2 separate regions of the Homo sapiens genome follow, and region 2 is linked to region 1. The links come from fine-mapping of genetic effects on gene expression. A gene starts in region 1. The other region holds a variant in brackets. All regions are shown on one strand. Distances are from middle to middle. Region 1 holds the start of EXO5-DT (EXO5 divergent transcript). Region 2 overlaps LOC105378673 (a long non-coding RNA gene).

The links. PIP is the estimated chance that this variant, and not a neighbour inherited with it, causes the effect. A credible set is the group of variants that fine-mapping cannot tell apart.
Region 2: its variant is the best candidate, but not a certain one, in a credible set for the expression of EXO5-DT in skeletal muscle (FUSION, PIP 0.65).

The regions. Positions count from the first base shown.
Region 1 is chr1:40,505,447-40,510,828 of GRCh38, reverse strand. EXO5-DT (EXO5 divergent transcript) reads left to right here and starts at 2,134. Exons shown (of 2, transcript NR_187365.1): 1 at 2,134-2,240. It overlaps EXO5 (exonuclease 5), which reads right to left and starts at 2,062. Exons shown (of 4, transcript NM_001346953.2): 1 at 1,921-2,062; 2 at 1,204-1,378; 3 at 1,039-1,096. RefSeq lists enhancers at 1,656-1,745, 1,776-2,025.
Region 2 is chr1:40,566,844-40,572,225 of GRCh38, reverse strand. LOC105378673 (a long non-coding RNA gene) reads right to left here. Exons shown (of 3, transcript XR_947235.2): 2 at 4,179-4,244; 3 at 3,660-3,910. Among named protein-coding and RNA genes, the nearest start is that of ZNF684, 38 kb to the right of the region's middle. The variant A/G (reference allele first, on the strand shown) is at 3,087.

The DNA.
Region 1 (5,382 bases):
GCCATTAGTAGCCACTAGCCATATGTGGCTACTTAAATTTAATTAAAATAAAATAAAATTCACATCTCAGTTGCACTAGCCATATATTAAGTGCTCAGTAGCTACATCTGGCTGGTGGATACAGATAAGGCACAGATACAGAACATTCCCTGATCACAGAAAGCTCTACTGAACAGCATAGAGTTAGACTATTTCCTGTGTACACATTAACTCCCCAAAGAGAGAGGAAGCTCCTGAAATGTATGGAGTTCCTACTTGTTTTACATACAACATTGAGAACAGGTAGTTCTAAACAGGGAAGTGAAATGTCTTTTGGAGAAGATACAAAGCAGGGCATTCTCTGTGAAAGTATTCATCTATAAGAATAAAACAGTACACTAGGGATGGATGACTGATGCTCAGATGTGTCTGGGACTTTCCTACGCAGAAAAGAATCCAGAAGAGAGCATAATGCAGTGCATTGTGTCCCAAATTGTAGTTTGTATGTCTGACACGAGACGATTTTACATAGCACATGGACCAACATTTTTAGATACACCTTAGAATAACTATACTGTTATTGGAGCAGCCATCAAATGGCTAATTTCACAGATATTGTTTCTTAGGACAAGTTTGATTTTTATAAAAAAAAAAAGTAAGTAAAAACATAGAATAATACAGGTAGTACACAGGTATGGCAAAATTGTTAGGTAGTAAGTGAATGGGATGCTGGGAAACAGCATAATGCCAAGAGTCTGGGAGTCCTACAGATATGGATTCTAAACCTAATCCTGAGTAGTTCGGTAGCATTTAGTAGTATGCTACTTGCCTTTTGAGTAAGCTTGGACAAGGTTCTAGTTTTCCTGAAGTTACTGACACATTTTTAAAATACCTACTAACCCTACTGAGATATCCGACCATTGAGTGATAACATATAGTACGCATATTAGCACTCGATGAAGATAGATCTCCTTCTTTTTCCCCAAGGAAGAGATGAGAGAGTGTATCGATTCCCCCTGACAAAGGAGATGAAACTTTAGAAGAGAAACTCCTATTCACCTGTGACTTCGTTGATCTTCCTCCTCATAGGGAAGGCCAGAATGCTGAAATGACAAGGCTAGGGAAGAGAAAGAAGTTCTGAAAGACCAGGTCTGCATTAAAGAACCTAAATTAGCAACTTAGGTCCTTGCTATGGTAGAACCGGAACTTCTGGTCCTTTCTTACCTGACCATTCCCTCACGTTGGGTGTTTTCTCCTCTCACATTGACACTGCACAGACTGTTACCCACCCCAGATCCTAGGTTACATAACGCTCGCCTCTCTCCTGGGGCAAACTCTCTCCATGATTTCTTCGTTCCCCCGTACTCTAGATGCAATGACTTGATCCAATCCCTGCTCCCTGAAAGTAAAAGGGTCAGACATAACCAAGATCCCCAAGGAGCTCCGAGATCAGTTCCCTCTTCCAGCTCCATTCTCAACCCAGCAGCTCAAGCAAGAGACCTTATGACAGCGGCTCTTTCTCTCAGATGGGTTACTGCCTTCTGCAGAATTGCCGATGGCAACATCCTGACTTGTTCAGTGCGGCCCGGACTTGTGGGCTCCGCGGGCGTTTGCCTTCAGGGAAGATCTTTCCTCTGGCCCTAAAGCACTGTCTCCCAGGGAGTGCCATGCATGCCCTAAAGTGTACTGAGCACTTCCTACAGTTCTGGCAGAGCCAGGAATAAGAACAGGGAGCCGTCCACCTCGGGAAGGAGTCCCGGCCAACAGCACTGTGTTCCGAGGGCGAAGGTCCAGAACGGGAACCCGGCCTGTGAGGGGAGACGAGACGAGCCGCTTCCCGGGAGCCGCGCCCACCAAGGGAGGGAGACGCGGCGATCGCAGGGACAGAACCCTAAGCTCCGAAACGCAGCCTCCCAGCCCATTCTCCGGCCTTCCCCTAACCTCTGATACTCCTCCGAACCTCGGACTCCACCTGGTTTCGCCGCGGCCTCGGAGCTGCTCCCGGACGCTCCCGGCGAGGAGACTGAGGAAGCCGGGCAGAGCGCGCTGCCGGAGCGGACTACACAGTCGGCCCGCCACTCGCAAAAAAGCCGCCCAGAGCCCAGTCCCAGAGTGCCCCGCGGCTGCCCACGGACCGCCTTCCCAGAGGCCCTCGCGGCGCCGCCTACCTCGCGAGGCTGCGGCTGGGGCAGAAATCCGTCTCTGTGAGCGGAGGAGGGTGTGCTTATGCGAGAGCAGGTTTTGGGAGCTCACTAAAGCAGGTCAGTCCCTCTGTTTGCGCCGTTGTCTGTGGGTCGTTTAATTCCGGGCGCAGCTGATCTGTAACTTCCCTCACTGGCGAGGTCTCCCAGTTACCACCGGGACAATCCGAGCAAGGTCTGGGCCCCTCGCTGCCCCCGGTGAAGTGCCGCGTCTCCGCTTGGCCATCCGTGGATTCAGCATCCCCACCTTAGCACCTCCCGCCGGCTTTTCCATTGAGAGCAAAACCACGAACTCACTTTTGAGAGATGCTGGCGCTCCCCTCATCAATATTTCTTTTTTTTTTTCTGTTTGCTTACTTTTAACTAACCTTTTATTGATAAATATAACACAATTTTATTCTGAAATATAAACCAAAGATAAGTATAATTATGAACAGCCAAGTCATTAGAGCGAAAAAAGAATAGTGTCAGGTTCTTCACAGATACACTTCCTGAGAAAACCACTAGCCCGACTTTTATAACACTTTGCTTTTCTTATTTATATTTATTTATTTATTTATTTTACCAAAAGCAGATACTTGACTCTTTGCTTTTCTTTACGGTTTATCACGCATACTTGAAAACTGGATTTATGACAAAGGTGGCATCATACAGCCATGGAGAAAAGATGGTCTATTCAGTGAAGGTTCTATGACAATATGAAGGCCGGGCACGGTGGCTCACGCCTGTAATCCCAGCACTTTGGGAGGCTGAGGTGGGCGGATCACGAGGTTAAGAGATCGAGACCATCCTGGCCAACATGGTGAAACCCTGTCTCTACTAAAAAGTACAAAAATTAGCTGGGTGTGGTGGCACACACCTGTAGTCCCAGCTATTCAGGAGGCTGAAGCAGGAGAATCGCTTGAACCGGGAGGCGGAGGTTGCAGTGAGCGGAGATCACACCACTGCACTTCAGCCTGGGCAACAGAGGGAGACTCCGTCTCAAAAAAAAAAACAAAACAGAAAACAGGACCTCTATCTCTCATTTCATCACAAAAATCAATTGTAGCTGGATTAAGACCTAAATGTGAAATCCTAAACTATAAAGTCTTCAGAATATAATATAGGAAAATATCTTTGGACTTCAGAATAGGTAAATATTTTAAAACAAAAATAGAAAAACATTAAATTGGCCAGGCATGGTGGCTCATGCCTGTAATACCAACACTTTGGGAGGCCCAGGTAGGCGGATCACTTGAGGTCAGGAGTTGAGACCAGCCTGGCCAACATAGTGAAACCCCGTTTCTAGTAAAAATACAAAAAATTAGCCAAGTGTGGTGGCAGGTGCCTGTAATCTCAGCTACTTGGGAGGCTGAGGCAGGAGAATCACTTGAACCTGGGAGGCGGAGTTTGCAGTGAGCCGACAACAGGCCACTGCACTCCAGCCTGGGTGATAAAGTGAGACTCTGTCTCAAAAAAAAAAAGGAAAAAAAGAAAGAGAAAAAAGGAAAGAAAAAGAAAGAAAGAGAAAGAAAGAAAAGAAAAGAAAGAAAGAGAAACATTAAATTAAGACAACTACAGGCTGAGTGCAGTGGCTCACACACCTGTAATCCTAGAACTCTGGGAGGCCGAAGTGGGTGGATCCCTTGAGCTCAGTTCAGAAACCAGCTGGGGTAACATGGTGAAAACACGTCTCTACAAAAAATACAAAAATTAGCTGGGGGTGGTGATACGTGCCTGTAGTCCCAGCTACTCTGGTGCGTCAGTTGGGAAAATTTTGAAGTGACTTGTGTTTTAGATAATATTATCAATCAATTATAGGTCTCCTGAGTGTCATAATGATTTTGTGGTTATGTAGGAAAATGTTCTTTTTCTTAGAAATATGTAAGTTGAGGCCAGGTACGGTGGCTCTCGCCTGTAATCCTAGCACTTTGGGAGGCCGAGGCGGGCGGATCACCTGAAGTCAGGAGTTCAAGACCAGCCTGGCCAACATGGTGAAACCCTGTCTCTACTAAAATACAAAAATTAGCCGGGCATGATGGCAGGTGCCTGTAATCCTAGCTACTCGGGAGGCTGAGATGGGAGAATCGCTTGAAACCGGGAGATGGTGGTTGCAGTGAGCCGAGATCATGCCACTGCACTCCAGCCTGGGTGGCTGACTGAGACTCTTGTCTCAAAAAAAAAAAAAAAAAAAAATGGAATTTAAGTGTATTAAATAGTCTGTTCTCATGCTGCTAATAAAGACATACCTGAGATTGGGTAATTTATAAAGGAAAGAGATTTAATTGACTCACGGCTCCACATGGCGGGGGAGGCCTCACAATCATGGAGGAAGGTGAAGGAGGAGCAAAGTCACCTCTTACATGGTGGCAGGCAAGAGAGAACATGTGCAGGGGAACACACCTTTATAAAACCATCAGGTCAGCTGGGTGTGGTGCCTTATGCCCGTAATCCCAGCACTTTGGGAGGCCATGGCTGGTGGATCACCTAAGGTCAGGAGTTCAAGACCAGCCTGGCCAACATGGTGAAACCCTATCTCTACTAAAAATACAAAAAATTAGCCAAGCATGGTGGCAGACGCCTGTAATCCCAGCTATTCGGGAGGCTGAGGCAGGAGAATCACTTGAACCTGGGAGGCGGAGGTTGTGGTGAGCTGAGATCGCGCCACTGCACTCCAGCCTGGGCAACAAGAGTGAAATTCCATCTCAAAAACAAAAACGAAACAAAACAAAACCATCAGATCTTGTGAGACTTATTCACTATCACGAGAACAGCATGGGAAAGACCTGCCCCCACGATTCAATTACCTCCTACCAGGTACCTCTTCCATGATATGTGGGAATTATGGGAGCTACACTTCAAGATGAGATTTGGGTTGGGAGACAACCAAACCATATCATTGAGGAAATGCTTTTTAATCCATTGAGATATGAGAAGGCATTTCTGGATTGAGGCTACAAAAACTTTCTGCCTCTTCCCCAACATAACCTTTCTTACTTGAGATGTAAACTGAATGCCAGGAAAACCCCTCCCCAACCCCTTCACACATGGACCACTCCTCAAATGGGGTTTGAGGGGCAATGACACTGGGTAGAGTGAAGCAGAAGAGATTTAGAAACAGTCATGGAATTTGTGGGGAAAATAAATATCAAAAACATAGTACCATATATTCCCCAAAACTTTCAGCCTAAAGACTGTGGGTCTCAAAACTGAGAAAAGAATG
Region 2 (5,382 bases), 61 kb before region 1:
TTGCACAGCCCTTAATCCATTTAACCCTGAGTGGACACAGCACATGTTTCAGAGAGCACGGGGTTGGGGGCAAGGTTACAGATTAACAGCATCTCAAGGCAGAAGAATTTTTCTTAGTACAGAACAAAATGGAGTCTCCCATGTCTACTTCTTTCTACACAGACACAGTAACAATCTGATTTCTCTTTCTTTTCCCCACACCGGCGATTCTCCTGCTTCAGCCTCCCAAGTAGCTGGGACTACAGGTGCGTACCACCACGCCTGGCTAATTTTTTGTATTTTTAGTAGAGACGGGGTTTCACCACGTTGGCCAGGCTGGTCTTGAACTCCTCATGTCAATTAATCCACCCGCCTTGGCCTCCCAAAGTGCTGCAATCACACCCAGTGATTTTCAAGTACTGACCCAGCCTTGTATTACTGGGATAAAATTCATTTGGTTGTGACGTGTCATGTTATATATTGCTAAATTTGATTTGCTAAGATTTTGCTGAAGAATTTTTGCACTTATGTTCATGAAGGTTATTGATCTGTAGCTTTCTTTTCTCATGATGTCTTTATCTAGTTTTGTTCTTTTTCTTTTCTTTCTTTTTCTTTTTTTTTTTTTTTTTTGAGATGGAGTTTTGCTCTTGTTGCCCAGGCTGGAGTGCAGTGGCAAGATCTCAGCTCACCGCAACTTCTGCCTCCTGTGTTCAAGCAATTCTCCTGCCTCAGCCTCTTGAGTAGCTAGGATTACAGGCACCCGCCACTGCACCTGGCTAATTTTTTGTATTTTCAGTAGAGGCGGGGTTTCACCATGTTAGCCAGGCTGGTCTCGAACTCCTGACCTCAGGTGATCCCCCCCCACCTCAGCCTCCCAAAGTGCTGGGATTACAGGTGTAAGCCACCATGCCTGGTGTCTTTGTCTAGTTTTGATACAAGTGTAATGCTGGTTTCATAAAATGAGCTACAAAGTGTTGCCTCTATCTTCTGGAAGAGATTGTGAAGAATTGCTGCTATTTCTTCTTCAAATGTTTGGAAGAATTCACCAGTGAAATCATTTGACCTCAAGTTTTCCTTTTTGGAAGCTATGAATTAGATCTTTTAATAGATTCAGGACTATTCACTTTATTTCTCCTTGAATGAGTTCTGATAATTTGTGTCTTTCAAGGAATTGGTCCATTTTATCTAAGTTGTTGTATATGTGTGCACAGAGTTGTCCCTAGGATTCTCTATTATCCTTTTACTGTCTGTAAAAAGGGAAAGTAGTGATGTCCCCTCTTTCATTGTTTATGTCATTGTTTATGTCAGCAATTTGTGTCTTCTCTGTCTTTCTTGTTAAAGAATCAGTGTTTAATTTATTTTCTCTATTTTTCTGATTTCAATTTCATTGATTTCTGCTCTAAACTTTTTAAAAAATTTTTATTTATTTATTTTTTGAGACGGAGTCTCACTCTTTAGCCCAAGTTGGAGTGCAGTGCCGTGATCTTGGCTCACTGCAACCTCTGCTCCCGGGACTCAAGCGATTCTTGTGCCTCAGCCTCCTGAGTAGCTGGGACTACAGGCGCGCACCACCACGCCCGGCCAAATTTTTGGACAGGGTTTCACCATGTTGCCCAGGGTGGTCTCGAACTCCTGAGCTCAGGTGATCCGCCCACCTCGGCCTCCCAAAGTGCTGGGATTAGAGGTGTGAGCCACTGTACCCGGCTAAACTTTATTCTTTCATTCTGCTTGCTTTATTTTTGCTTTTCTTTTTCTAGTTTATTTAGGTGGATTATACTCCATTTTGGAGACCAAATAACCATAATACCAAATCCTGACTAAAATAGCACACACAAATTTAAAAAAGAAAAAAAAAAAAACAAAAACAGACAAATCTATAGGTGTAAAACTTACAAATAAAGTATTTTATTTAAAAAATCACATAAATAGTTAATAAGGCATTTTGGGAGACCAAGGCAGGCAGATTATGAGGTCAGAAGATCGAGACCATCCTAGCTAACACAGTGAAACCCCATCTCTACTAAAAATACAAAAAATTAGCCGGGCATGGTAGCAGGTGCCTGTAGTCCCAGCTACACGGGAGGCTGAGGCAGGAGAATCTCTTGAACCCGGGAGGCAGAGGTTGCAGTGAGCTGAGATCAGTGCCACTGCACTCGGTGACAGAGCAAGACTCTGTCTCAAAAAAAAAAAAAGTTAATATGGAAAAACAATATTTTAATATCAATAAATACTGAAAACCCACTGGCTCTCATTTAGCACAATTTAAAAAACAGGGTCCAGCCATGGTGGCTCATATCTGTAATCCCAGCACTTTGGGAGGCCAAGGTGGGCAGACCACCTGAGGTCAGGAGTTCAAGACCAGCCTGGCCAACATGGTGAAAACTTGTCTCTACTAAGAATACAAAAATTAGCTGGGCATGGTGGCGCACGCCTGTAATCCCACCTACTCGGGAGGCTGAGGCCGGACAGTTGCTTGAGCCTGGGAGGTGGAGGTTGCAGTGAGCCAAGATTACGCCACTGCACTTCAGCCTGGGCGACAGAGTAAGACTCCGTCTCAAAAACAAACAAACAAACAAACAAACAAACAAAACAAACCAGGGTCCTTGTAGCCTTCTCTGCTATGGGAGGCTACAATCTGTAACCAGAAGAGGGCCCTCAGCAGAACCTGACTCTGGCGAGGTTCTGATCCCTACCTTCTAGCCTCTGGAACTGTGAGAAATACATTTCTGTTGTTTATATTTAAAAAATGGGTAATGTGTTCCAGTTATTCAACAATCAAAACTATATTTAAAAGTGAAAAAGAAGTACAGGAAAGCCTCACTCTTACCCTTGCTTCCCCAGACAACTTTTAAATATAGTTTTGATTATTAAATGACTTTATTAGTTCCTATTTAGGCTTCCAGTGTGACACTATGCAAATATAAGCAAATATGGATATAATTCTCATTCTCCCTTACACAAAATACTCTGTGTACATATTTAATATATTTATATATACATACATACATACATTGTTCTTTATCTTGCATTTTTTCATTTAATAACATATCTTGGAGATATTTCCATTTCAATGAGGAAATTTTGCTTACTCTTCATTGGAGCTGCAT[A/G]CTATTCCACTATGTGGATATCTAGTTTACTAAGCCAGTCCTCTATTGACATACATTTGTGTTGTTTTCCATTTTTTACTAATGGAGACAATGCCGAATGTTTTCAAAGCACATGTGCAAGTGTATCTGTGGGATAAACTCCCAGAAATGGGGTGTTTGTCTTGGAAGGCAAGTGTATCTACAGTTTTGGTAGATGCTGTCAAATTGCTCTCCAAAGGAATTATTCTATTTTGTGCCTGCCCACAGCAGTCTGAGAATGCCTGTTTTTCCACAGCCTCACTAACAATGGGTTTTAAAACTTTTCAATTTCTGTAATCCCAGCACTTTGGGGGGCCGAGGCAGGCAGATCATGATCAGGAGATCAACAGTATCCTGACTAACATGGTGAAACCCTGTCTTTATTAAAAATACAAAAAATTTGCCAGGTATGGTGGCATGCATCTGTAGTCCCAGCTACTCAGGAGGCTGAGGCAGGAGAATCACTTGAACCCAGGAGGTCGAGGTTGCAATGAGCCGAAATCGTGCCACTGCACTCAAGCCTGGGTAACAGCGAGACTCCATCTCAAAAAACAAACAAACAAACAAACAAACAAAACAAACAGACAAAAAAAAACCTTTTCAATTTTTTGCTAACCTGATAGGTAGGAAATGGTGTCTCAGTATGGTTTTGATTTTCATTTCTCATATAATGAGAAAGGTAGAACACCTTTCCAAAAATTTAAGGATCATTTGTATCTCTCTCTGACAAGTCTCTTCATATTTTCCATGCTTTTTCTTCTTGATTTCTAAGAGCTCTTGATAAATAAGGCAATGGATCCCTTTGTCTGTAATATGAATTGCAAATATTTTCAACAGTTTGTAATATTTTACTCCATTTGTATTCTTCCTCTGGGAGCTGGTAAAGGGGAAAACCTCTCTTTTTTAAAGCCCTCCCTCTAGGTTTTTCTTTCCCATTCAATATTTATTCATACATTAATTTATTTGAGGAATTCAATAGAATATGGTTGAAAGCAGTGATTGGAAAAAAAAACCATTTCATAATCTTATATGCGCCATTGAGCTGACACTCTACAATAAACCAGTTACACTTACTTTTGCTTACTTTTGCTATTTGCCAAGCAATAGTATTGGGAAACATTCAAGATGGCTTGCAAAATCCTGAAAAGCATAAAATAGAAAATAAAAACCACTCATTGATACTATTAATATATTAGTGTCTTTCCAGGTTTTTCTTATATGTATGTATCTTTAACATCCTGCTATAACTTATGTACATTTACCTGTCATTAAAAATAATCCAAAAATATAATTTTTCTTGCTAGAGAATAATGAATCATATATAAATATTATAATTTACAGAAAAACATTTCTGTTATTGTAATGTAAAATTTTTCCTTTTTTAAAAAATACTAAAAATAACATGGTAATATATACCTTTTATACATCATTCATCTGATTATTTCCTTAATGTAGTTCTTAGATGTAAAATTTCTAAGTCAAATGGCAGAAACATTTTAAAGGCTTTTGATATATGTTGCCAAACTGTGTTCTGGACAGGATGCTGCCAAAGTATTCAGGGAAAATTTAATTCAGTGAAATGCATTTATTAGAAAATAAGAATAAATAAGCTCTAACTCAAGAAACTAGAAAAATAATTATAAACTTAAAAGAAGTTTATAGAAGAAGGCCAGGTGCAGTGACTCACATCTGTAATCCCAGAGGTCCAGGAGGCCAAGATGTGAGGATCACTTGAGGCCAGGAGATCAAGACCAGCCTAGGCAACATAGCAAGACCCTATCTCCAACAAAAAAATTTAAAAATTAGCCAGGAGTGGTGGTGTGCGCCTGTAGTCCTAGCTACTTTGTAGGCTGAGATGGGAGGATCCCTTGAGCTCAGTAGTTCAAGGTTACAGTGAGCTATGATCATGCCACTGCACTCCTGCCTAGGTGACAGGGAAAGAGCCTGTCTCTCTAAAAACTAAACAAACAAAAACACCCCAAAACAAACAAAAACACCCTAAAATAAGTAGAAGGATTTAGTAAAGATTTTAAAAATTAATAAAATAGAAAATAGCACCAAGAAAGAAGCATAATGTGTCCTGATTAGGAAAAACATAAAAAACTCATGCTTAGATACATTTAGTGAAATGGCAGGACATTTTTCTGCCTCTGAGGATTTTGCTAAACCTCTTTAAAGATAAAGAGATAATCTTGGCTGGGCGCAGTGGCTCATGCCTATAATCCCAGCACTTTGGGAGGCTGAGGCGGGCAGATCACTTGAGGTCAGGAGTTCGAAA